Linked DNA regions of Homo sapiens: region 1 is linked to region 2. The links come from fine-mapping of genetic effects on plasma protein levels. A gene starts in region 2. The other region holds a variant in brackets. All regions are shown on one strand. Distances are from middle to middle.

Region 1 (10,995 bases), 65 kb after region 2:
CCCCTGTGACAACCCCCCTTGGGCCGATCATGTTGAAGACAACTTCAGAGGAGCTGGCTTGTCCCCACGAGGACCTCAGTGTGGCTTGGAAGGAGGAGTTGCAGAAGCTGCCACTGGACCAGGTGCAGACAGTGCTTGGGCTGCTGACCGCTATCTTGGGGACTGTCTGGGACAAACACAGTGTTACTGCTGCCACTCCACCACCCTCCCCGACAGGAGAAAGTGGTGACTTACTGAGTAACCTGTGGCAGAGTCCTAGTTCAGCCAAACTGTTGAATCAGCCAATTCCCATCCTTGATGTGGTGAGTGAGTATATCTGTTCCCTTGCCTTGGAGTGCCTAGCCCATCTCTTCAGTTGTATTCCTCTGTCTGCCGGCATCACCCCATCCCTCCTTACCACCACCTTCCACTTTGCGTGATTTGGCTGTGACATCCGTGCCAGAAAGATGGCGTCAGTTAACGGCAGCAGCCAGAACTGTGTCTCGGTTCAGGAGCGGAGCCGGCCGGGGGTCCTGGCCATGCCCTGCATCAGTGAACTCATTTCCAAGAGCTGTGTGCCGATGGAGTTCGAGGAGTATTTACTGCTTATGTTCCAGCAGACTTTCTACCTCCTGCAGAAGATCACCAAGGATAACAATGCCCACACAGTGAAGAGCAGGCTAGAAGAGCTCGATGAGAGCTTTATTGAGAAGTTTACTGACTTTCTTTGGCTCTTTGTGAGTGTTCACCTAAGAAGAATCGAGTCTTACTCCCAGTTCTCTGTGGTGGAGTTTTTGACACTTTTGTTCAAGTACACATTTCATCAGCCTACTCATGAAGGTTAATTCTCTTGTTTGGATACTGGACACTCTTTTTGGACTATCTGACAAATAAAATTAAAAGTCATCTTGAAGACAAGGAAGCAGTTCTCAACAGGTACGAAGATGCCCTGGTGCTCCTCCCCACAGAGGTGTTGAATCAAATCCAGTTCAGATACAACCAGGCCAGCTGGAGGAGTTGGATGACGAGACTCTGGATGACGATCAGCAGATGGAGTGACAGCGGTACTTACGGCAGAGCTTGGAGGTGGCGGTCAAAGTGATGGAGCTCCTGCCCACGCACACGTTGTCCACACTGTTCCCAGTTCTTCAGGGCAATTTAGAAGTTTATTTGGGATTACAGCAAGTTATAGTTACATCAGGGTCAGGACACAGGTTGAACATCATGGCAGAGAACGACTGCTGGTGGCTGCACTGCTCCCTGAGAGACTTGAGCTCCCTGCTGCAGGCCATGGGCCACCTGGCCGGGTACTTTATTGGGGATGTGTTTGCTGCATGGTTCAATGATGCCCTCACAGTTGTGGAGAGTTTGGTCAAAGTCACTCTGTATGGATCTCAGATAAAGTTGTACAACATTGAGCCAGGTGCGGTGGCTCACGCCTGTAATCCCAGCACTTTGGGAGGCCGAGGTGTGTGGATCACAAGGTCAGGAGACTGAGACCATCCTGGATAACATGGTGAAACCCTGTCTCTACTAAAAACACAAAAAATTAGGTGGGCACGGTGGCACGTGCCTGTAGTCCCAGCTATTCGGGAGGCTGAGGCAGGAGAATCACTTCAACCAGGGAGGGAGAGGTTGCAGTGAGCTGAGAACGTGCCACTGCACTCCAGCCTGGGCAAGAGAGCAAGACTCCGTCTCAAAAAAGAAAAAAAAAAATTGTGCAACATTGAAACTGATGTGCCATCAGTATTGAAACCTGACCTCATTGATGTACGTGCTCAGTCCCTGGCTGTGCTGCAGGCTTACACTCACTGGTTAGTGCAGTATTGCAGTGAAGCTCACCAGCAGAACACACAGCAGTTCGTGACACTCATCCCTATTACCATGAATGCAATCACACCTCTAATCAGCACCAAGTTCTCGAAGCAGCAAAGCCTACCGTCTACACCTTTTATCTAACTCTGTCTCTCCTTCTGTTCCTATACCCATTTATTAGAAAATCTAAATATGACACAGAGTTAGACCCATAAATCTTTCCGCTTTATAAAACTGTTATTTCATCTTCCTTTTTACTTGTAGCCCACATGCATTCAAATACAACTTTACTTTTTTGGTTATATAAGTTCCACATGCTCACTGTGAAAAACCAAAATATTGTTCAGATTTCCAGACTAAAAAGTTGTGATACCTTTGAAACATTTTCCTTCAGGCGGTACACACAGTTGGGCATTGGTTGTGCAGGCACACCTCGTTTTGTTGTGTTTCCCTTTATAGCACTTCGTAGATACTGTGTTTTTTACAAGTTGAAGGCTTATGGCAACCCTGCATTGAGCAAATCTGTCAGCGCCATTTTTTCAACAGCATTTAGTGCTTCCATGTGTCACATTTTGGTAATTATTAGAATATTTCAAACTTCTTCTATGACTATATCTGACAGTAATTTGTGGTTAGTGATCTTTGATGTTACTATTGTAATTATTTTGGGGTGCCACAAACTGAAGATGGCAAACTTGATTGATAAATGTGTGTGTTCTGACTGCTCCACTGATTGGCGGCTTCCCCACCTTCCTGTCTTTAGGACTCCCTATTCCCTGAGCCATTTAGTAACCCTACAATGACCTCTATGTGTTCAAGTGAAAGGAAGAGTCACATGTCTCTTACTTTAAAAATCTAGAAATGATTAAGCTTAGTGAGGAAGGCGTGTCAAAAGCTAGGATAGGCCAAATGCTGTTGAGCCAGTTAGTCAAGTTGCGAATGCAAAGGAAAAGTTCTTGAAGGAGATTAAAAGTTCTGCTCTAGTGAACACACAAGTGATAAGAAAGCAGAACAGCCTTATTGTTGTTGACACGGGGAAAATTTCAGTGGTTCGGATAGACCAAACCAGCCACAACATTCTCTTATGCCAAAGTCAAAACCAGATCAGGCCCTTCAATTCTCTGAAAGCTGAGAGAGGTGAGGAAGCTACAGAAGAAAAGTTGTAAGCCAACACAGGTTGGTTCGTGAGGTTTAAGGAAAGAAGCCATCTCCATAACATAAAAGTGCAGGATGAAGCAGCAAGTCCTGAGGAGAAGCTGCAGCAAGTTCTCCAGAAGCTCTAGATAAGATCATTGATGAAGGTGGCCACACTAAACAACAGATTTTCAGTGTAGATGAGACAGCTTTATAGTGGAAGAAGGTGCCATCTGGGACTCCCATAGCTAGAGAGGAGGAGTCAGTGCCTGGTTTCAGAGCTTCAGAGGGCAGGCCAACTCTCTTGTCAGGGGGCACCTGCCACTGGAGACTTCAGGTTGAAGCCAGTGCTCATGTATCATTTGAAAATCCTAGGGCCCTTAGGAATTATGCTGAATCTACTTTGCCTGTCTCTATAAATGGAACAACAAAGCCTGATTGACAGCACATCTGTTTACATCATGGTTTACTGAATATTTTAAGCTCATTATTGAGACCTGCTCAGAAAAAAAAGATTCCTTTCAAAATACTACTGCTGATTGGCAATGCACTTGGTTACCTAAGGCCTCTGATGGAGATGTTCAAAGATATTAATTTCCATAGTTTCCATGCCTGCTCACACAACATCCGTTCTGCAGTTCTGCAGCCCATGGATCAAGGAGTAATTTTGGCTTTCAAGTCTTATTACTTCAGAAATACATTTCATAAGACTATAGCGGTCATAGATAGTGGTTCCTCCAATGGATCTGGGCAAATAAATTGAAAATATTAATTCAAATAATGGAACTCATTTCACTGCACATATCATTAAGAAATTAGCCCAAGCACTAGACATAACGTGGGAATACCATACTCCTTGGCACCCACCTTCATCGGGAAGAGTAGAAAGAATAAATCAAACCGTGAAGAGTCACTTAACCAAATTAGTCTTAAAGACTCAGTTGCCATGGACTAAATGCCTTCCCATTGCCTTGCTAGGAATCTGAACCACCCCTCAAAAAGATGTTGGCCTATCCCCATATGAGATGCTATATGGGTTGCCCTATTTACACTCCACTGCTGACATTTCCACCTTCGAAACAAAAGATCAGTTTCTCAGACATTATATACTTGGTTTATCTTCCACTTTCTCTTCCCTTAGAACTAAAGGTCTTTTAGCACAGGCACCATCCCTGGAGTTCCCAGTACATCGAAATCAGCCCGGGGATCAAGTCCTCATCAAAAACTAGAAGGAGGAAAAGCTGGAACTGGCCTGGGAAGGACCTTATCTAGTGCTCCTAACTACTGAAAGCGCAGTCCAGACAGCAGAAAAAGGATGGACCTATCACACCCAAGTCAAGAAAGTGCCGCCCCCTCCAGAGTCGTGGGCCATAGTCCCAGGGGAAAACCCTACCAAACTAAAGCTAAGAAATTTTTTTTTTTTTTGAGACAGAGTCTTGCTCTGTTGCCCAGGCTGGAGTGCAGTGGTGCGATCTTCACTCACTGCAACCTCCACCTCCCGGGTTCGAGCAATTCTCCCGCCTCAGCCTTCCGAGTAGCTGGGATTACAGGCGTGTACCACTACGCCTGTATAATTTTTGTACTTTTAGTAGAGATGGGGTTTCACCATGTTGGCCAGGCTGGTCTTGAACTCCTGACCTCAAACGATCCACCTGTCTCGACCTCCCAAAGTGCTGGGATTACAGGCGTGAGCCAAGCTAAGAAAAATTTAACTCTCTTATTACTCCTTCTTCTTTCCTCATTCTATTGCTGACCACCTCATTATTAATGTAACAAAGTCAATTTCACCTCAAACTATTACATTTGATGCTTGCCTTGTTATACCTTGTGGAGACTTGTCAAGTTAAAGACAGCTCTCCAATTCAGAAAAGTACCTCTGTCCTTCCCGGCTCTCCTCAGACTGGACATTAGTGAATGGGGATCATTTAGTCTGGAGAGATTTCAATAAAGACCCCAGTATCAGCTGGGAGTCTTGCTCCTGCAAGACAGAGCTTTTATGCC[A/G]CAGTTGGTCCAACATTCTGTGGACCACTAAAGAGCAAGGATGAGCTGCCCCAACCAGTGGTTGTAATTTCCTAAAGTCATATATTCACTTTACTAAAGGAACAGCTTCACCTAGCTGTCAGCTGAACCGTGCAATCCAATACAGGTTATTATCTCAAACCCTCAAAGCTCTTCCCCTTCTCTAAGCCGGTTCCCTTCTTTAAGCCGGTTTTATGGTGTGGGGGCTGAGGTTTCAGGAACAGACCCTATCAGATCCTTTGAAACACAATTCATTGATCCTCTGCCGCCTACACCTTCCCTTAAGCCTTCTTCCAGAAGCTCTCACAACAAAACTGTTGTTCTCCTCCATCTAATGACAAGACCAAGGTAGTTATTATAGAAGTTAAAGACCTAAAACAAACTTTGGCAATTGAGACAGAATATCAAGATGCTAATGCCTGGTTGGAGTGGATCAAACATTCCATCCACACTTTAAACAAAAGCATTTGTTATGCTTGTGCGCACGGCAGACCAGAAGCCCAGATTGTCCCCTTTCCATTAGGATAGTCCTTTAGTCTACTAGGCATGGGCTGTATGGTTACTTTTTTCCAGGATTACACAGCCTGGGGTAAAAAGTCGTGTCAAGCTCTCTCTGCTATATCCTGAGGTTCAATACCCTGCAGGTCAGCCCCCAAGGTCCACTCAGCTTCTGTCCCCTGACGCTAAGTTCACTTCATATCTCTCACTACAGGGAGGAAACTTAGCATTCCTTGGAGACCTAAAAAGATGCAGTGAGCTTAAGACTTTCCAAGAGCTTACCAATCAGTCAGCCCTTGTTCATCCCCAAGCATATGTATGGTGGTATTGTGGTGGACCTTTACTGGACTCTCTGCCAAGTAACTGGAGCAGCACTTGTGCTCTAGTTTAATTGGCTATCCCTTCCACCCTAGCATTTCATCAACCAGAGAGAGGAAAAATACAACATCATAAAACAAGGGAAGCTCCTTATGGGTCTTTCAACTCCCACATTTATTTAGATGCAATTGGAGTCCCATGAGGAGTACCAGATAAATTTAAAGATCAAGATTAAATAGCTGCAGGATTTGAGTCAAGATTAAATAGCTGCAGGATTTTGTGGGTGACAATTAATAAAAACATAGATTGGATAAATTACGTCTATTATAATTAGCAGTGGTTTATTAATTACACCAGGGATGCTGTCAAAGGGATAGCAGAACAATTGGGGCCCACTAGCCAGATGGCCTGGGAAAACAGAATGGCCCTAGATGTGATATTAGCTGAAAAAGGCAGTGTTGGTGTTATGATTAAAACTCAGGGCTGTACCTTTATCCCAAGCAACACTGCCCCCACTGGGAGCATAACAAGGGTCTTACAAGGACTTACTGCTTTATCCAATGAATTAGTTAAAGATTCTGGAGTCAATAACCCTTTCTCAGGATGGCTAGAAAGGTGGTTCAGTAGATGGAAAAGATCATAGCCTCGATTCTTACTTCTCTTGCAGCCGTAATAGGTGTACTCATTCTTGTTGGGTATTGTGTCATACCATGCGTCCGTGGGGCAGTGCAAAGAAACAGCACCTACTAAAACCTCCCTTAACTTTCCTCCACCTTATTCAGAAAAGCTTTCTTCTTTTAGAGGATCAAGTCAAGCAGCAAAGCCAAGACATGTTAAAAAGGTTTGAAGAGGAAGGCCTATGAAAATTGAAAGGGGGGAGATTGTAGGATACAGTAAATTCCTCTTCAGAGTTAGCCTGTTAACTTCCTTTAAAATTCAAGATGGTGGCTGGGCGTGGTGGCTCATGCCTGTAATCCCAGCACTTTGGGAGGCCAAGGCAGGCAGAACATGAGGTCAGGAGATTGAGACCATCCTGGCTAACATGGTGAAACCCTGTCTCTACTAAAAAATACAAAAAAATCAGCCGGGCGTGGTGGCGGGTGCCTGTAATCCCAGCTACTCAGGAGGCTGAGGCAGGAGAATGGCGTGAACCCAGGAGGCGGAGCTTGCAGTGAGCCTAGATTGCACCACTGCACTCCAGCCTGGGTGACAGAGCAAGACTCCATCTCAAAAAAAAAAAAAAATTCAAGAGGGAGAAAAAAATCATTTAAGTACAATGAGTTCTGAGTTCCTCTTCAAAGAACAAATACGTCAGTATGTTCAGCTTCCCTGTTCTTTGTTCTCCATTTTGAAGTTTAACTTCCTTGTTCTTTACACCTCCTTGCCTCTAGTTTCAGTAAACAACCCCCTCCTAGCCTCTATCACCTGTTCTGTCCTTAGGCATCCTTACTCTCCTGTTCTGTAACTGTCCTTCCCTGATGAAACTACTCACCCCACCACTCCAGCTCATACACTCACTCTCTTTAAAATTTCCAACTGGAATTAGCTTAGACTGTGTGGTCCAACCCTAGCCAACAGGGGAAAGACACAGCAGTAGGGACTAGCTGCATTAGGAATAAGACGCCCTTCTCCTCCCTTGTCTGGTGTGCTCTCACCATTGCTCCATCTGAGAGATGCACCCTTCTATAGAAGTAAATTGCTTTGCTGAGAAAATTTTTGCCTGAGTGCTATTTTCACTCTGTGGCACCGAGCACTTACTTCCAACAGTTTGGTTACATTTTTTATCACCCAGCATGGGGCTATATGTCTCTACTGGTCTAGCGTGCCTGGTTTCCGATGGATGGAGCAATTGGCTGTGGCATCATGCCAGGGCTTACTCATTCATGCTACCAGGCAGAGCAACAACTTCTCATGAGGATTAGCTGCTCGTGGCTAGCTGACCTCCCAGCTGGGATTCTAGGGTTGTCCCAGCAGCTGCCAAGAACATCTTTTCCCTCCTTCCCCCTCTGTGGCATCAGCTGCCTGCAATGCTTTATTAGTATAAGGAAAATGATAGTTGAGGAAGTTGACAGGATTCAAGACTGGGTAAATCAAACCAGTTTGCATGCTAGAAATCCTCTGTCTCTGCCATTTGGGCTTTATGCCATTTGGACCTGACACAGGTCTTTTGCAGTATCAGTTAGCCTAAGATTTATTAACTTCCCAGTCTCCTTCTACAGGAATTGGTTCAGGAGTACTCTGTGTTGATCTGTGTGTTTGTGTTCTTTTGATCTCTCCCCTGAGAATGGGCAACTTGACTTCCATTCCATCTAAGTGGCCATTGGGCTGTATATTGGCTTATTGGAAAGCTTATAGCTATGAACTCATAACAAAAAAGATAATGATTTTTTTTCATTGTAACACTGTTTGGCCTATGTATGTGTTGGAATCTGAAAAATGGTGGCTACTGAACAGTGATTTACATTAGTACACCTTATTACAGTTGGCGTTATTTTGCCTAAGATCTGGGAAATGAAATGAGATTCCATGTGTTTAAGCATTTATTACATAACAAAGACTCAGCACATGAGGGGTCTATGTGAATGACGTAGAGAAAAGGGAAAAAGAGATTTCTCTTTCCAGATAGTAAGACCCAAAAGGAAGAGGATATTGATGATATGGGCCTCATAAATATCTTAAATTTCCCCTCCCATGTGGTACTGGGGGCACCAGCCCTCCCAGGATTACCAAATGTAGCCCAGGACCCGGAGAGGCCAAGGTGTCAGCTCCTCTCCCCAGGATGGGGAAGGAATAGAAATGGCTGCTCCACTTGCAGATTTTACTTGGGACCCCAACAATGGAGGAATGGCCCTGTCCAGTCATTATAAAAAGCATGTGTTGGCAGGGTTAAAGAGAAGAATGTAAAAGAGCTTAAATAAAGCCAGGGCAGTTCTCCCAAAGGCAGATGAGAACCCCTGTGAATTTCTGGAGTGCATTTACCAGGTTTACCACAAGTGTATGGACTATGATCCAGAAGCTCCTGAGAATATGAGAATGGTAAACGTGACTTTCATCCAATATTAAACGAAAACTGCAGAAACTGGAGGGGGTATTTGGAATAAACCTTTCCCAACTGCTGGACATTGCCTTCAGAGTATATAATGCCAGGAAGGCCAAAAAGCTAAAGCAAGCCATGATATACTTGGAATTAGTGGAAAGAATGTATATCCGAAAAGGAAAAACCAGGCACAGGGAGGTGGCCAGAACAAAACTCTAGGTAATGATCAGTCTGCCCCCTGCAAGGAGGAAGGTCATTGGAAATCTGAGTGCCCCAAATTAAAGAAAAGACAGGGAAACCAGAAGAAGGGAGACACAGTGACAGAGAAGAAACATACTGGCTGATGGTAAAGCAGGACTGTAGCTCAGATAGTGAAGGAGGCCCAAATCTTTTGGAGCAGGTTGTAATTTCCCCACAGGAACCTCAGGTACGATTGACAATGGGGAACAAATTGATTGACTTTTTAATCAATACTGGTGTGACTTATTCAGGTAGAAACACTAAAGAAACTGAAAGTACTAGGAAAACAGTGCCTGTGATGGTTGTCGCTGGCAAGATGCAGCAAACAGCCTTTCTCCAGACCCTGGAGAGTCTGGAGACTGCCGGACACAGAGATCTGGAGCTGAGACACAGTTTCCTCTATATGCTGGAATACCAAATTCCTTTGCTGGAGTGAGATTTGCTTTGTAAACTAAATTGCCATGTGACGTTTTTCTCCAGAAAAACAACAACTTCATCTGCAGGTCCTGCCAGAGCAAGCTTTGCAGCTGCAGATGCTGCTCACACACCCCGAGGAAGAAAAAGAATGCCTCCTGCCAGCAATCTGTGAGCAAGTAAGTAGTCATGAGGGCAGATGGGACCACAGGTAGTGCTGAAAATACACAGCCTGTGTGCACAGAAATAAATGAAGGGGCTAAGGTATTCCCCAAACACAGTGCCCTCTAAAAAGAGAGGCTTTAGAGGGGATACAACCTATATTACAGAAGTTTCTAAAAAATGGACAAATATGTCCTTACAGATCTCCATACAATGCCCCTATCCTGACTGTTAAAAACCCACACTCAAATGAATATTGATTTGTACAAGATTTGGGAACCATTAATGACATTGTTCAAGACATTCACCCAACTATGCCCATCCTTTACACCTTACTAACTGATAAACCAGGGCAGTATGGGTAGTTTTCGGTATTAGACTTAAAAGATACTTTTTTTTTTTTTTTTTTTTTTGCATCCTGATTGAAGAGAGGGACCAGATGCTGTTCACCTTTGAGTGGCAAGACCTGGAAACAAAAAACACCTTCCAATATTGTTAGGCTGTATTTTCTTAAGGTTTTAAAAACTCACCCACCATCTTTGGCAAAATATTGGCAAAGGGCTTCAGAGATTTTCAACTAGATGATGGGGTTCTGCTAAAATACTTGGATGACTTGTTAATCGCAAGCCAAGACTATGAGAGGTGCCTATCTAACACTATCTTAATCTTAAATTATTTGATATAATACGGACGTAACATATCACCTCAGAAAACTCAGATTTGTAAACAAGAAGTGACCTATCTTGGCTTCTGACTAAAAACAAGGAAAGCAGAGCTTGATGTCCAACCAGAAACAGGTGATAGCAGCAATAAAGGCCCCTGGGAATGGAAGACACTGTGGGGGGTTTTAGGTGTGGCAGGTTTCTGCTGAATCTGAATCCCTAATTTTGGACTCATAGTCAAACCTCTCTACAAGGCTCTAAAGGGATTAGATTCAGGAGCCCTAAACTGGATGGCTGAATGCCTTCAGGCATTTGATACCATCAAAAAAAAAAAAAAAAATAGTGTCAGCTCCAGCATTAGGACTGCCCAATTCTTGAAAGCTATTTAGACTCTATATCCATGAAAACCAGGGCACAGGACAGGAAATACTAATTCAACTACGTGGGAATTCCCCACAACCCATAGCCTACTTTCCCAAACAACTGGAGCAGATTACCAGAGGATGGCCACCTTGTCTTCAGGCCGTGGCAGCTACGTGTGATATCTTACAGGAAGCAGAAAAATTCACCCTAGGACAGCCCATTACTGCATTTGTGCCTTATCAAGTGTTAACCTTATTGTAACAAAAGGGAGGTTACTGGATGATAGCGGGGCATATGGGCAAATACCAAGCCAGCCTATTAGATAACAGAAATGTTTTCTCCAAACCACCACAG
Region 2 (10,995 bases):
TAAAGAGTACAAAAAAAGGACTGAATATACCCCAAATGTATGATTTCATCTGAGAAGAGTTTTTTTTTGTTTTATTGTTTTTTTTTTTTTGCGACGGAGTCTCGTTCTGTCGCCCAGGCTGGAGTGCAGTGGCGCGATCTCGGCTCACTGCAAGCTCCGCCTCCCGGGTTCACGCCATTCTCCTGCCTCAGCCTCCCGAGTAGCTGGGAATACAGGCGCCCGCCATCACACCTGGCTTATTTTTTGTATTTTTAGTAGAGACGGGGTTTCACCGTGTTAGCCAGGATGGTCTCGATCTCCTGACCTCATGATCTACCCGCCTCGGCCTCCCAAAGTGCTGGGATTACAGGCGTGAGCCACCGCGCCCGGCTGAGAAGAGTTAAGAAGAATTACCAGAAAGGAATAAAATGGACCCCAATGTTTTTATATTTTATTTATTTTAAAATTTTAAGCAAATGAAACACTTAATATTTATTTCTTTTGCATGCCACTAGTATATTGTATTTATCTGGATTGTTTAATTTTTGAAAAGTAAATAATCCCATTAAAAATGAAGTGAACTCATGAGAGAGAGCAAGGGAAAAACTTGACGAAATCCATCAAGTATGAAGAGCCCCCAAAGACTTCCCATCCCCACGAGCTTCTGCTTCTCCTCCTTGCGAAGCTCTTTGGCTCTGCTATTGCCACCCCTACACCTGGGTTTTTGTGGGGTTTTTTGCAATCTTGACTCAAATGTGGACAAACACTTTCTTGTTTTTATTAGCACTGTCTAGATAAAATGGCATTTTCAAAAATAACTTTACAAATTAAAAAGATGACTTGAAGAAATATTCACAGTATCAAAAGAATCAATAAAATCAGTTTTAGATTGTATAATTTCTTTTCAGACGAAATTAATTAAAATATCCACCTAACTCACTAAGTACAGCTGTAAAAGTGGTTTAATGTTTTTACTGGTCCCACATCCTCCTGTCTTAAAATAAACTTTCCTCTATTCCTCAAGAGTACATTGTTATTCAATTTCTGTTTCCACACTGTGTGGTTAAAGAAAAAGTATTGAATTGTCTATCTAGCCCCTTTTCTCTGGGAACTATGACATCTCTAACCAGGGCTAACTCACCTGGAACCAGTCCTGGCCCCAAGACAACACTACAGACATGAGTCCTGAAGCTCCTTAGGGCTTCCTGTGCTGGAAGGAAGGGTTGAGGGTGGGAGAAAGCCCCAAAGGAGAGAAAGAGAATAGGATCCCATGCGGATCTCAGGCCAGGCACTACCAGCCTGGGCTGACTGCAGCCACTGATGAGAGACTTAGAAAATGTTGAGAAGGGTATTCCAAGATGCAACGGGGTGCCTGAGGAACAGGCGAGGCCAGAGACCCCATTTGGCCAGCCTTAAGGGCAGTTCTCTCTAAGCCTCTCTTCTGCATGGTCCACAAGAAAGGCTCCTGGAAGCTATTTTTTGCAATGTGATTCTGTCCGATGGTCATGTCTGATCTATGGATGGGATCAGTCAGAATCCCTTCAAAAATAAATAATATTTCAGAGAAAATTAGAAAGTGAGATGGAAAGGGATGACTGTCTACTTACTGTGTGAAAAAGAAAAGCAGAGGAAATGAGTACATTGCAGAAAAAGACTGAAACAGGGCACAGAAAGGAATATTAAGAATTCATTACGGTCGGGCGCGGTGGCTCACTCCTGGAATCCCAGCACTTTGGAAGGTCGAGGCGGGCGGATCACGAGGTCAGGAGATCGAGACGATCCTGGCCAACATGGTGAAACCCGGTCCCTACTAAAAATACAAAAAATTAGCCGGGCGTGGTGGCGGGCGCCTGTAGTCCCAGCTACTGGGGAGGCTGAGGCAGGAGAATGGCGGGAACCCGGGAGGCGGAGCTTGCAGTGAGCCCAGATCGCGCCACTGCACTCCAGCCTGGGCGACAGAGCGAGACTCCGTCTCAAAAAAAAAAAAAAAAAAAAAAAAAAAAAAAAAAATCATTACTTTCCTGAGGCCCCAGTTCAAAATTCTCAGCCTGCCAGGTGTCGTCCTTCCTACTGAATTCCAGCCACCTGCCTCAGCCACAGCCAAAGGACAAGATCCATTGAATAGTCTAGAAGACCAGGAATCAACACACTTTGTTCTATAAAGGACCAGACAGTAAATATTTCACTTTTGTGGAACACATAGGGTCTGTGTCACTTCCTCTCCTTCTTCTTCCTCTTCTTCCCCTTCCTTCCCCTCCCTCACGTCTCTACTCCTTCCTTCTTCCTGTTCTTCCCCCCCTCCTCTTCCTCCTCCTTTTTCTTCTCCCCCTAAAAAAGTAAAAATCGGCCAAGCACGGTGGCTCACGCCTGTAATCCCAGCACTTTGGGAGGCCGAGGCGGGTGGATCACGAAGTCAGGAGATCAAGACCACGGTGAAACCCCGTCTCTACTAAAAATACAGAAAATTAGCCGGGCGTGGTGGCGGGCGCCTGTAGTCCCAGATACTCGGGAGGCTGAGGCAGGAGAATGGCGTGAACCCGGCAGGCAGAGCTTGCAGTGAACTGAGATCGCGCCACTGCACTCCAACCTGGGCGACAGAATGAGACTCCGTCTCAAAAAACAAACAAACAAACAAACAAACAAACAAACAAATTAGCTGGGCGTGGTGGCGGGTAATCCCAGCTACTCAGGCGGCTGAGGCAGGAGAATCGCTTGAATCCAGGAGGTGGAGGTTGCAGTGAGCCGAGATCCAGCCATTGCACTCCAGCCTGGGCGGCAGAGCCAAACTCCATCTCAAAAAAAAAAATAAAAGTAAAAACCACACTACTCCAGGCAGTATAAAATAGGCGCGGCAGGCCAGAGGTCTGCAGATGTAGTTTGCTTACCCCTGCATCAACAGTTGTTACCAATATTTGCTGCCCATTACAATTACATGGGGATCTTTAACAAACATCCATTAGAGCCCAGGTCTCACCCCCAGATATTCATTTAATTGTTCATTAAATGTTCATAAAATTTATTTAGTAGATCCCGTCATTGGTATTTTTCTAAAAGCTCCCAGGTGAATCTAATATGAAGCCAGAGTTGAGAGCTGCTAGAACATCTGCTGAATTCACTTCTAAGCTTTGCCTGCTTTGGGATCATTCTGTATATTCTAGGGATATATCTAAGTGAACTTCTTAGCAATTATGTATTGAACTTCTGCAATACATAACTGCATGTAGAAAAGAAAATAAATCTATGAGAGATTCCATCCCAGTCTATTCCACTTGTTTAGAACTAATACCTTCTAAAAGTTTGGGCATAATAGATTGTTGAAAAGTTACCCTCATTGTTGCCTTTTCCTTGATCAGCAACAAAAAGTGACTCTAATTGTTGTTGGGGATAGGTTTGTCATGGGAGGGTGGGGAAGATTAGATATTGTTGCTGCAAATCTCTTCAAAAGATGGCACTCATTATATTTTTGTTTTTAACCATTTGTTACAAAATATTTGCAGTATTTTAGACCTCACAATTTATTTCACTAATTTTAAGTAACATTTCATGTTCCCTAATGTTTCTGACAGTTGAAAAATTTTTGCAGCACAGATGTATTCAATCCATGAGATACCTTTACTATATAAATAACAATAGCATGAGCAATTGAGTTGTTTGGTTTTACTAGATTACCTTTAAGAATCTCTGGCAATTTCCAGGTAATGTTCATATAAATCCATTCAACCCCTTTCCTTTCAGATGCTGCTACTTTCGTATACTTGTTCATACCAAACGTGAGCACAGATTCTCCCTGCCATTCCACCACACTTTACATGAAGACTCTGAGACAATAAAATGTAAATGCAACATGGCTTAAAGCTGAATACAACTGAAAGCTGCTTTGAGTTAGAGCACTCAAGTCCCACTGTAGGATTCCCTCTATAAGGTACCCACCTTCTTAGGTGCCATATTGCCCTGACCTGCTAATCTCTTCCCAATGGGAGGGCCCTTGATCAGTCATCACCCTGGAATCCAGGCTCCTGAAACCTCATATTCCATTCTTTGTTCCTAAGATATGACATAAATGTGTAGCGTAAAGGAAGGTGAGCTGAGTTAGCATATCTATTAAACTAATAGTCTGGCTTGGAAAGAATCATTTGCAGCACAGGTAATGAAGACACTACAATATGTAGCCTTTTCAAAAAAACTTCATTGTCTTTGGCTGCTACTTGAAGACTCATCACTGTACAAAGCACTTGGGATTTACACTGGCCCACTAGCCCAATGACTCTAGAGGTTGACAAGGAAACTGAAGTTCCTTCTGTGAAATGGCTTAGTTCAGGTTCTGTTCCAAAACCCCAATACTTCTGTGGTATTTCAGTATTTACATAGGACTAGAATGTTTTTAGTTTCCTAGTGCTTTTTTCTCTTTCTTTCTTTCCTTTTTTTTTTTTTTTTTTTGAGACGGGAGTTTCGCTCTGTCACCCAGGCTGGAGTGCAGTGGTGCAATCTCGGCTCACTACAGCCTCTGCCTCCCAGGTTCAAGCGATTCTCTTGCCTCAGGCTCCTGATTAGCTGGGATTACAGGCTCCTGCCATCATGTCTGGCTAATTTTTTGTATTTTTAGTAGAGATGGGGTTTCACCACATTGGCCAGGCTGGTCTCAAACTCTTGGCCTCAAGTCGTCTGCCTGCCTCGGCCTCCCAAAGTGCTGGGATTACTGGTGTGAGCCACTGCATTGGGTCTCCTGGTGCTTTTCTCTTTTTCTTTTTTTGTTTTTGAGATGGGAGTCTCACTCTGTTGCCCAGGCTGGAGTGCAGTGACACAATATTTGCTCACTGCAACTTCTACCTCCTGGGTTCAAGCGATTCTCCTGCCTCAGCCTCCCGAGTAGCTGGGATTACAGGCACTGCCACCACGCCCAGCTACTTTTTTTGTATCTTTAGTAGAGATAGCGTTTCACCATGTTGGCCAGGCTGGTCTTGAACTCCTGACCTCAGACGATCCACCTGCCTCAGCCTCCTAAAGTGCTGGGATTACAGGCGTGAGCCACCACGACAAGCCTAGTGCTTTTTTCTTGATCTATGCTTTCTATTTATCCATTTCAATAAATAATGGAGGATTGACCCTAAGGTTACTACAATGGATTATTATCCCTATTACTACTACTATCACCTTATATTTAAAACATTATCTGATTAAAAACGGAAACAAATAGAAAAGACATAGGATCCTTCAGTTGCCAGTGACAGAATCTATGTGTGAGTTATCATCAACTGTCTTTGAGGTATCAGTACTACCTCCAATTAAGCATAGACAATGGTTTCCAGGGGAATATATAAAGTCATGAGCAGAGTTTGAAGAAATGCTCCAAAGTCCCAAACGCTGTCCTTTCTTGTGGGCAAGGAAGTGGGGCCCCAGGGAGGCCTCAAAAGTTTTCTAGGGACTTAAAGTCAAAACAGTGTTCCTCTGAGTACCGGTCAACAATGCTTTGAAAGCGGATCTCAAACACACACTCATTAGAATGCAGCAGGAAGTGGTTTTATTGCTGTGAACACAGGGCAATAAAGCTTGGCAAAAGTTGCAGGGTTAGAAATCTGAATCTTTCTTTGCTGTCTTCCCTATTCCCTTCTCTCGAAAAGTACAGAACTACAAAGCAGAAAATAATCTTATTTCTTTTTGTCTCAACTCTGGTCTGGCATCCTAGGCACTCGAATTCTCCAAACACCTTTCTTCTTTCTTCTACGGGAACAAGAAAATCAACAAAAGAAAAGAAAACATGGATGCAATTGTAACAGAAGCTATGTCAAATGAAAGGAAATGCAGTGGATGCCTTAGAGAATACTATCTAAGTGTACAGGAACCAACTTGTAGGGGGGATCGCTCTTCTGAGGGGGGTCACAGGCAACAATGAAGAATTTGTACTGGGCAGCAGCACTATAGCGGCACTGGGGATACTTTCCTGAAGTGAGTCTGCAGTCAGTCATGTTGACAGGCTTTGAGCTCTGGTGGCAGTTGTGCCGACGATTTTTGCAGACAATGCTGAGCAAATCACAGACAGCAGCCACATTCTGGAAAGAGTCATGCAGAAAGGTATTTTGATGCTTACAGTGCTGGGTATAATTGTTGATGCCACTCATTGCCCTGTTGCATTGGAGAGGACTTGGCTGTATATGCTGAATTTCAAACCAGTGAGCCTTGGTGAGACGCTTAGGCCAAGCATGAAGTGGACACACTGGTCCCCATAGAACCAGCAGCAGTAAAAGAAGAGGAAAGCATAGCACCATCTTTTCTGTGTAGAAAGAGAGAAGATAGTTATAGTAGGAGAAGCAATAAGAGCAAAATTTTTAATCATAACTATTTAGATTTTTATTTTGCCTTTTAAGATTTTACAGCTCCCTTTAAAATCTTCTTTCTCACATAGTCTCACAATTCTATGAAGAACCTGAAGCCCAGGAAACAGAAATATGACCTCTCCTTTGATTGGCATATCCCATTTTCTTTCACAAGTACTCATGCATTTGATGGCTGTCATATCAGAAAGTTTCTTCCCTCTTCCCTCCTGAAATATTTACCCTCTATCTGACCACTACCTCCCAGCCGTCTTTACTGCTCTACTCGCTCCAGCCCTGAGGCTTTCTTTCTTACCTGGTCTCAGTGTTGGGGCTCCTGCTGAGAACAGAGGCTGTGATTAGTCCAAAGCTCAGAAGCTGTTGTCTGCCTTTCTTCTCTAACCCTTCGAGCCCTGTGTGTATAGGGAAGGGGAAGAAATATTCTGAGCTTTCAGAAGGAGAATCCTAGGGTTTGGCAGATTAACTTCTTGTGCAGAGTCTGGATTAAACTCTTAGACTTTCACACCTGTTCTTTAAAACAGTATCATTATCACATGTATACAGGAAGGCTAAACCAACTTAAAGAAACAACATGACTGAAAACTCACAGTTTTGAGGAACTGATCACTTCCTGATATGGAATGAGTGCTTCCTGCCTCATCTGAGGCTTCAGTGTTTTTTTTTGAAGCTTTATGATTCCTGTTTCTTAAGAGAAAATATGTCACATAAATATGATATAATGCCTGCCACATACTTGGTAATGTTGTAAGTTCCTACAACAGAAGTGAATACATTATTCATTTATGCATATACTTATTGGGCCAGGTACTAGGCTACACAAATTCAGGAGCTCATGAGTTTTTTTTTTTTTTTTTTTTGAGACGGAGTCTTGCTCTGTCGCCCAGGCTGGAGTGCAGTGGTGCGATCTTTGCTCACTGCAAGCTCCACCTCCTGGGTTCATGCCATTCTCCTGCCTCAGCCTCCCGAGTAGCTGGGACTACAGGTGCCTGCCATCACGCCCAGCTAATTTTTTTGTATTTTTAGTAGAGACGGGGTTTCACTGTGTTAGCCAGGATGGTCTCTATCTCCTGACCTCGTGATCTGCCAGGAGCTCATGATTTAATGAAAGAGATTAGAGACAGGCAGGTAAGTATATAGACAAGTAGATTATATTAATATAAATAGCACTTACAGTGTGATGGAGGACACTGCAGGAGGCTACGGGAAGATAGTAGAGGGGAAGGATTGTTGGAGGGCACAACACCTGAACTGAATTTTGAGGAATAATTAGAAGTTAGGTGAAGAGAGTGTTAAGCGCCTCCCAAAGACAGAATTGTGTATGAAAAGACCTGTAAGCCTGAAGAAGAAGGCCGAATTTAGGATATTTGCCTCTTGAATCTGTTCTTACCTTTTCACTGGTACTGCAACACCCTTATTCAGAAACTCATTGTCTTATGGAGGGCTCACATAAAAGCCTCCCACATGGACTCCTTGCCTTGTTTTTTTCTCCTTCCAATCCATTCTACATATTACTTCCAGATTAGTCTTTTTTTGAACAAGATATAATAGTACAACACTCTTGCCCCATGCTTTTATGGCTCCAAATGTCTGCAGAATAAACATAATGTCTGTTTATAGCAAGGTTGCAGGATACAAGGTTAATATACAAAAGTCAGTTGCTTTCTTATATACCAGCAATGAACAATTGCAATTTGATATTTAAAACACAATACCATTTATATTGCACCAAAGAAAGTGAAATACTTAGGTGTAAATCTAATACATTATGTAAAAATTGGTATGAGGAAAAATTTAAAACTCTAATGAAAGAAATTGAGGAAGCACAGATATTCCATGTACATGAGTAGGAATACTCAATATGTTAAGATGTCATTTCCTCTCAACTTGATCTATAGATTCAGCACAATCTCAATCAATATCCCAGCACATTATTTTGTGGATAGTGACAAACTGACTCTGAAGTTTATATAAAAGTAAAAGATTCAGGTTGGACACGGTGGCTCACGCCTGTAATCCCAGCACTTTGGGAGGCCGAGGCAGGCTGATCACGAGGTCAAGAGATCAAGACCATCCTGGCTAACACAGTGAAACCCCGTTTCTACTAAAAATACAAAAAATTAGCCAGGCCTGGTGGCGGGCGCCTATAGTACCAGCTACTTGGGAGGCTGAGGCACGAGAATCGCTTGAACCCGGGAGGTGGAGCTTGCAGTGAGCCGAGATCGCACCACTGCACTCCAGCCTGGGTGACAGAGCGAGACTCTGTCTCAAAAAAAAAAAAGATTCAGAATAGTCAACACAATGCAGAAAAAGAAGAACAAAGTCAGAAAACTGACGTGACCCAACTTCAAAACTTACTATAAAGCTACAGCAATTAAGACAGTGTGTTATTGGTGAAAAATAGACAAATAGGTCAATGGAACCAAGTAGAAAGCCCAGAGGTAGACCCACACAAATACAGTGAACTAATCTGTGACAAAGGATCAATTTTCAATTGAGAAAAGTTAGTCTTTTCAACAAATGGTAGTAGAACTGAATGTACACATGCAAAAAATAAATCTTTTCATAGGTTAGACTTCATACATTTTCATAGACCTGTACTTTATATCTTTCACAATTTTTTTTTGAGATGGAGTTTCGCTTTTGTTGCCCAGGCTGGAGTGCAATGGCATGATCTTAGCTCACCACAACCTCTGCCGCTCAGGTTCAAGTGATTCTCCTGCCTCAGCCTCCGGAGTAGTTGGGATTACAGGCATGCACCACTACACCCAGCTAATTTTGTATTTTTAGTAGAGACAGGGTTTCACCATGTTGGTGAGGCTGGCCTCGAACTCCTGACCTCAGGTGATCCGCCCACCTCGGCCTCCCAAAGTGCTGGGATTACAGGCGTGAGCCACCGCGCCTGGCACAAATGTTAATTCAAAATGGACCATAGACCTAATGCAAAATACAAAACTACAAAAATTCTAGAAAATAACATAGAAGAAAATCTAGGCAGCCTTGAGTTTGGCAATGATTTTTTAGATACAATACCAAAAGCACAATCCATGAAAGAAAAATATTGATAAGTGGAACTTCATTAAAATTGAAAACTTCTGCTCTGCAACAGATACTATTAAGAGAATAAAAAGATAAGCCAGAGACTGAGAGAAGATATTTGCAAAAGATATATCTGATAAAAGAACATTATCCAAAATATACAAAGAACTCAAAAAACCTCAACCATAAGAAAACCAACAACCTAGTTGAAAAATGGGCAAAACATCTGAATGGTATGGGGCAAAGACAATTTTTCCTCTCCCTCTGAAGGTTCAAAACTTCTGAAATGAACTGACAATAGACAGATTAACAGGAGAAAAAGGCATACAAATTTATTACTGTGCATAATCATGGGAACCATACAAATTATGAGACTCAAAGAAAGACTAAATAGTTGAAATTCATGTATTCTCTTCATAGGGGAGAGGAACATGGGGAAAATGTAGGCAATTTTGAGGAGTTTTAAATATTTTTTAGGGAACTGGCCCCAAATAGCAGACAATAGTTTGTAAATGAGTCTCTTTGGAAGCTGAATGGAAGGGTGACGAGTTATGGGAAGGTGAAGGGTGGAACTGCACTATGAACAAAGGTTGCCTTATTATACAGATAAAGTCTCTTAGGTACTCTTTTGGAGCTGCTCTTGGAAGAATAGATGAAAGGTCTATCTGAGTGTGGTGTGAAGAGACTTCTAGTCTCTTCTTTTTTTCAGGTGGCTAATATTTCCTGGTTATCTGATGAGATTTTTAGAAAGGGGGGTCTTAAGACAATTGCATTTCTTGGAAGAAGTTTTCCTTATCCAGACAAGGGAACTTCCAGAGAGAGCTCCTCTCTGCATTTGAGAGCTGGGGGAGGAATGAGAGAAGATTAGAACATCTTTGGTCCTGAGGCAGCTTCTAAGAAGTTTTGGTTTCTTTAATTCTTTAATTCTAGTTAAATTTAATTCTTTAATTTAATTTCTTTAATTCAAAAGTGCTCAGAATGCCATGCATCATAGTTTGTAGTATGATTCTCTGTACCCCAACACTTCACCAAACAAGATATACAGATGGCAGATGAGCAATGAAAAGATGTTCAGCATCACATTGTTTGGAGAAAAACTTTTCCTCTATCATTTTAGGTTTTAAAGGTGGTGGTAAAGGAGCTTGTGAATTAGAAAAAGATTAATAGGAGAAAATTCAAAGTTTATTTACACATGCACACAGGAGTATTACATAATGCGTAACTTGCTGAATAGCCAGAGGTAAAGTTATATATCAACTTTAAAAAAAGTGTTTTTGGCCAAGTGCAGTGGCTCATGCCTGTAATCCTAACATTCTGGGAGACTGAGGCAGGAGGATCACTTGAGGCATGGAGTTTGAAACCAACAGCATAGCAAGACCCCCATCTCTATTTTTTAAAAAAAGATTTGGCCGGGCATGGTGGCTCACACCTGTAATCCCAGCACTTTGGGAGGCCAATGTGGGCAGATCACCTGAGGTCAGGAGTTTGAGACCATCCTGGCCAACATGGTAAAACCCCGTCTCTACTAAAAATACAAAATTTAGTCAGGCATGGTGGTGGGCACCTGTAATCCCAGCTACTCGGGAGGCCGAGGCAGGAGAATCTCTTGAACCTGGCAGGCGGAGGTTGCAGTGAGACAAGGTTGCGCCAC

Direction of the effects. Alleles are on the strand shown, and positions count from the first base shown. The strength of an association depends on the size of the effect and on how common the allele is.
For the plasma level of the protein whose gene starts at base 6,674 in region 2, allele G in region 1 goes with a lower level than allele A (weak association).

What was found. PIP is the chance, under the fine-mapping model, that this variant and not a neighbour inherited with it causes the effect. Protein levels are from antibody-based Olink assays in UK Biobank. Linkage for the fine-mapping came from a reference panel and not from the study's own genotypes, which makes the PIPs less certain.
Region 1: its variant is fine-mapped to the plasma level of the RNASE6 protein (UK Biobank, PIP above 0.99).

Annotation. Positions count from the first base shown.
Region 1 is chr14:20,711,719-20,722,713 of GRCh38, reverse strand. LOC124903282 (a long non-coding RNA gene) reads left to right here and starts at 6,991. Exons shown (of 2, transcript XR_007064061.1): 1 at 6,991-9,633. It also overlaps the pseudogene RANBP20P. The variant A/G (reference allele first, on the strand shown) is at 4,930.
Region 2 is chr14:20,776,947-20,787,941 of GRCh38, reverse strand. RNASE6 (ribonuclease A family member 6) reads right to left here and starts at 6,674. Exons shown (of 2, transcript NM_005615.5): 1 at 6,604-6,674; 2 at 5,475-6,247. The coding sequence starts at 6,242. The coding sequence ends at 5,790. All of the region lies in intron 1 of LOC107984671 (a long non-coding RNA gene), which reads left to right. RefSeq lists an enhancer at 5,530-5,599.